Linked DNA regions of Homo sapiens: region 2 is linked to region 1. The links come from fine-mapping of genetic effects on gene expression. A gene starts in region 1. The other region holds a variant in brackets. All regions are shown on one strand. Distances are between the middles of the regions.

Region 1 (2,927 bases):
TTAGTTTATTTCTTAAACAAACATCAATCAAATTTCTTTTTAGATCCACCATCTCTCCTATTTCCAGAAATATCTGACTTCTTGAATTCTGAGCAATTTGCAGGTTTTGAGTTATATATTATGTTCCTTTGATTTTTTTCTAATTTTCCCAAAACTGGCCTAGGATTTAAGTTTCTGTCAACCACTAAGAAATTTTCCTTTTTTTCTAGATTTAAAATGTTATTGCTATTGTTCTTTTCTTTGTGTTAGTGGGTTTATAATTTAAAAAATATCTTCACTGCATTTTAGGGGAGCTTTGGGAACAGATGAAGAAAAATGCACATGTAAAAAAATCTCTTTACATAGCTAGGTTTCATCTTCATATTAATATACAGTCATGTATCACTTGACAGTGGGGATACATTCTGAGAAATGCACAGCTAGGTGATTTCATTGTTGTACCAACATCAAGGAGTGTACTTACACAAACCTAGATGGTATACCCTACTGCACCTTCTATATGGCAGAGCCTATTGCTACTTAGCTACAAGTCTGTACAGCACGTTACCGTGCTGAATCCTATAGGCAATTTTAACACGTAATATTTGTGTATTTAAATAAATTTAAATATAGAAAAGGCACAGTAGAAATACACTATACAAGATGTAAAAATGGTATACCTGTATAAGGTACTTACTGTGAATGGAGCTTCCAGGACTGGATGTTGCTCTGAGTGAGTCGGTGAGTGAGTGAGTGAGTGGCGAGGGAATGTGGAGGTCTAGGATATTACTGTATACTACTGTAGACTGTATAAACACAGTTAGGCTATACTAAATTAAAAAAATGTTTTCAATAAGTTATACTTAGCTCACTGTAACTCTTTTTACTTTATAAACTTTCATATTTTGTCTTAACTTTCTGACTCTTTTGTAATAACCCTTAGCTAAAAGTGAGGCAGGAGAATAGGGTCTTGAGGCAGGGAACCTAAGGCCGATTCGTACTTACTGAATATCAGAAGCTACTCCCTTTTCAACCCCTCCTTTTTCTGCGTGGCAGTTGCTGCGTGGCAGTTGCAACCCCTCCTTTTTCTGCGTGGCAGTTGCAACCCCTCCTTTTTCTGTGTGGCAGTTGCTGCATGGCAGTTGCAGTCCCTCCTTCTTCTGTGTGGCAGTTGCTGCGTGGCAGTTGCAACCCCTCGTTTTTCTGCGTGGCAGTTGCTGCGTGGCAGTTGCAACCCCTCCTTTTTCTGCGTGGCAGTTGCTGCGTGGCAGTTGCAACCCCTCCTTTTTCTGTGTGGCAGTTGCAACGCCTCCTTTTTCGGCGTGTCAGTTGCTATGTGGCAGTTGCAACCCCTCCTTTTTCTGTGTGGCAGTTGAAAATGAAAGTACCTCCAACCGGTTCCCTCCTGCAACCAATCAGACTGATTTGCGCAGAATGAACCAGTGGGAAACCTATAGAGGGTATTTAAACCCCAGAAAATTCTGTAATCAATGCTCTTGAGCTGCTTGCTCAAGGCCTTTCCTTCCCTATGGAGTGTACTTTGTTTAAATCCCTGCCTTCACTGCCTTGCTTTGTTTGTGTGTTTTGTTCAATTCTCTGTTAAAAACGCCAAGAACCTGGACAACTACCCTAAACAGGCAACAAAAGCACAAAGACGTTGTACACAAAAATATTTTCCTTCTGTATATCTTTATTCTAGAAGTTTTTTTCTATTTATTTATTTATTTTTTATTTTGATTGTTTTTTGCCGTTAACATTTTTTTGTTAAAAAGTAAGACCAAAACACACTTGTTAGCCTGGGCCTACACAGGGTCATTAAGACATCACTAAGCAACAGGAATTTTTTCAGATCCATTATAATCTTATGGGACCACAGTGTATATGCGGTCTGTTGTTGACCAAAATATTGTTGTGTGACACATTAATGGGGTGAGGATATTATTCTCTATTATTATCTTATGTAATTTTTAAATGCCATCAGATAAAACACAGAAGGGAGCACAGAGCTGCCTGGTCCTGCAGCTCTCCTGGAGTGAGGTGGTGCTGCTAACCACTGGAAGCTGAAGTCCAGAGGCTCTATTCAGTCAAGGGGTGATGAACTCTCTTTGGGTCTGGAGACAGGCTGGAACTGGGATGAGAGTAAGTAAAGAAAGTCAAGTGAGTAGAAAACATTGGGTGAAGACAGAGAGTAGATTCACTGCTGTAAAGAACTACCTGAGACTGGGTAATTTTTAAAGAAAATATGTTTAATTGACTCACAGTTCTGCATGGCTGGGAAGTCCTCAGGAAACTTACAATCATGGTGGAAGGAGAAGCAAGCACCTCCTTCACAAGGTGGCAGGAGAGGCAAGGGGAAAGCGGGGGAAAGCACCACACATTTATCAAACAGCCAGATCTCCTGAGAGCTCTATCATGAGAATAACAAGGGAGAAGTCTTGCCCCCAGGACTCAGTCACCTCCCACCGGGTCACTCCCCCAGCACATTGGAATTACAATTCAATATGAGATTTGGGTGGGGACGTAGAGCCAAACCATATCAGAGCAGATAAAGAGAGGTTGATGAATGGGTACCAATATGCATTAGGTGGAAGGAATAAGTCCTGGTGTTAGATAGAGCAGTAGGGTGACTATAGTTAACATTTCAAAATAGCCAGAAGAGCAAAATTCAAGTGTTCCTAACATCAATAAAATATAGATATTTAAGGTGTTGGATATTCCATTTACCTTCATTTGATTATATGAGTGTATCAAATCACATGTACCCTGAAAATATGTATATATATTACAGATCAATTTAAAATAATTTTAAAGAGATATCATTTAAAAAAAAGAAAAGGTTTGGTGAAATTTTAGCAGCTATCCTGAGGGGGAACATGCAAGGACCAGATTAGTGTTTATGAATAAACTCTGTAAGTTTGTAATATAAAGGTGTCTATATGATGTTGCCA
Region 2 (2,927 bases), 73 kb before region 1:
ACTTCTCCCCCACCTCACACACCCTAAGAAACCTCACTGAAGAGCAATTCCTTCTATTTAGCTCAATAATTCTTCCCTGGAAACTCAAGCAGCTCCCATGTTTCACAATGGGGCTATCTTTTCCCTTCAGGTCCTCTGCCTGACTAAGGTAAAGTTACTGCATCATCTTTGCTAGTCCAATGGAAGGAAGCCAGAGGGAGATGACTATTTGAACTGGTTTGGAATTTCAGAGCTCAGCATATGACCAGGAAGGTCACGTATGAAGAACTCTTATATTCTCTGTGAATAAAAGAATAATAATAGAGGCTAAAATGTATGGATTGCATAATATATACTCCCATGCTCAGTATTCAAATGGCACCCTGCAACTATTTTATGAGGTATGTGTTATTATTATTCCCAAGTTACATTTGGAGTGACTGAAATATATAAAATTTAAATAACTTGCCCAAGGCCACACAGTTAGTGGTGAGAGATAAAGAAAGCATCATAAAAATTAGTTATTTGAGTTAATAAAATTTCTTAAATATTTGGGGAATATTTAAAAGCTATTGCTTTTCAGAACTCAATTATTCAGTTAAATCTTTTTTTCATTTACAATGTGAATAGTAACCAAAAATATTTATTTGCTATGTAGATATTTCCATCTTCTATTTCTCTTAGATTTCAGGGATAGGCCATGCCTTAGAACTGATATTGCTCACTGAAGACAGGATTGGAAAGAAAACATCTTTCAAAAATAGACTTGTCCATTCTTAGAGTAAAAAGAGACTTCAGAAAGTTGATTGCAAGAAACTGTTGAGTAAGGAGTTGAAGTGAAAAATTAGACCATTGCAAGGCTCCTCCAGAATCATGTCTCTGCAGCATTCTGCTGAAGACTCATTTATACAGAACTTTCTAGTTTATGTGCTTATTATCTCTACTAGCTAAGTGGTGTGAGAGCAGGACTATATCTTATTCAACATTTTATTCATGTGAGTTGCTAAGCGTCAGTAGTCAATACCTCTGTTTTATATCCATTATCTTTTTTGATTTTTAAAACAAATCTGTGATATATTTCACAGCAGGTTTCTTATTTTGTTGTTGTTGTTGAAATGAGGACACTACATTTCCAAAATCACCCAGCTAATGAAGGAGCGAACCTAGGTTTTAGACCCAGGACTTGTCACTTTAGGATCAGAATTCTTTCCACTATGCCAAATTTCTTCAATATTTAGGCAGACTCATCATAAGTAAATAAGCATACAGAATATATATCTTCAAATCAACTAAAAGTGACACTTGGGTTATCTA[C/T]AGTAATGAAGAATGCATTGCTCAATTCTCCTACCCTCTTGTATTATGACAAAGTTTACTCACTATCATACCATTCATTTAGTCAATAAGAATTTTAAATCATCTTGTGCTTTAAGAACTGTGCTAGGATTGATGCAAAAAAAGAATCAAGCTTTATTTCTTAATGAAGAATAATCATAATGAAACTAACTTTTATTCCCTAAATGCAATGAGACTCCTGAAGTAGGCTTCTTCTCTGAGAAGGGTTAGTTGGTTTTCCAGACTATAAAATAATGAGCACATTCTTGTTCTGAAACAACTATTGCCTATATAGTTCTCTTCTCTTTTAGAGACCTGTGAGAGAGAAGTGATATGAAGAAATTATCCATTGAATTGGATTTTTTGGAATGTATGCAAGCGAAAGAACTCAAAATTTTGTTATAGTTTTCCTTTGGGAATGAATTAACTGGTGATAATTACATTAACAATATTTATTATATTTTATGTTAGGTGTTTTCATATTTGTTACTGAAAGGTTTTAGGTTTTGAATATATAAAGGGATATCATATAGATTTTCCATATTCAAAACATTTATAAACTTGTTGGAAATTCTCTTTTCTTCTCTCCTTCCCCCTTCCTAAAGTGTAGCATGATGGCTGTTTTCAGTATTTCTAAATAGAATAAACTCATTCAACATTCAGTGAAAAATTGTTATTGACCATCTCTTATTTGCCAGATGCCATGTTAGATTATGGGATATAGCAATATAGAAAATAACTTTAAAATATCCCAATACTCTTGAAACTTGTATTCTTGTGTTAAGAGAAAATAATATGCCTAAAATAAGGGGAATAATGACCAGAAATACGATATACAAAACAAGTGGCTAAAAGGATGACAAATTAATATCTATTCAGAATATGAACATTAGCTGCATTCCATTTGAAATTAAGTGAGCTAAAGCCATTTTTGTTTGCCTCTTCCCTCCATACTGCATATTATCTCCTCTAGGCAGAACAACTCTGAAAGCCTTTGCATGGAGATAATTGCATAATTGCTTCTCTGTTTCCCTTTTTACCTAGTAAATTGATTTGGAATATTTCTATTATTTCCATTCTTTGTTAAAAATCAGCCTCTATGATGTGAAACACATAGGAGGAGAATTGTTTAAATATTATATTTCGCTTTATAAAAGCCTTGTGAAGTTGGGTTTCAGTGAGTGCATATTGGACCATGACATTGACTAATTCAGACATGAATGCACAAAACAGCATGAATAATATGCAAAACAATAACAAATATCTTAGATTCTTGATATATGTTTCTTTAAGCCATCACAAAATTCTAACCTCCCTGAACTGCCAAAAAAGTGAAAGATGGAGCCTGGAAGCTTTGCCAGTGATCATTTAAATCACCAAAAATATTTTTGCTTTTATGAAAAGATTCATATTTACTTTAATAAGTCTTCTCCTAGTATTTGAAACTAGATTAAATGTAAATGTTACATGAATACATTAATTTATACATCTTTCTGTGGAAGAAATGTAAATTTGTCAAAACTTTTGCTGGACAAGAGGGTAGATTGGAACCCTTATCTCCCTTCTGCTAGCACCTGTTTTAAAAAAGTTAAAAACTTAGTTCGGAAAATAAGCTA

Alleles and levels. Alleles are on the strand shown, and positions count from the first base shown. SD is a standard deviation of normalised expression in the study named.
In carriers of allele T in region 2, the expression in testis of the gene that starts at base 1,186 in region 1 tends to be lower than with C alone (large effect, 1.3 SD a copy in GTEx).

The links. PIP is the estimated chance that this variant, and not a neighbour inherited with it, causes the effect.
Region 2: its variant is fine-mapped to the expression of LINC02475 in testis (GTEx, PIP above 0.99).

What each region holds. Positions count from the first base shown.
Region 1 is chr4:44,015,120-44,018,046 of GRCh38, reverse strand. LINC02475 (long intergenic non-protein coding RNA 2475) reads right to left here and starts at 1,186. Exons shown (of 2, transcript NR_131959.1): 1 at 985-1,186. LOC105374438 (a long non-coding RNA gene) reads left to right here and starts at 972. Exons shown (of 5, transcript NR_188377.1): 1 at 972-1,439; 2 at 1,961-2,118.
Region 2 is chr4:44,087,744-44,090,670 of GRCh38, reverse strand. No RefSeq gene overlaps it. Among named protein-coding and RNA genes, the nearest start is that of LINC02475, 72 kb to the right of the region's middle. The variant C/T (reference allele first, on the strand shown) is at 1,294.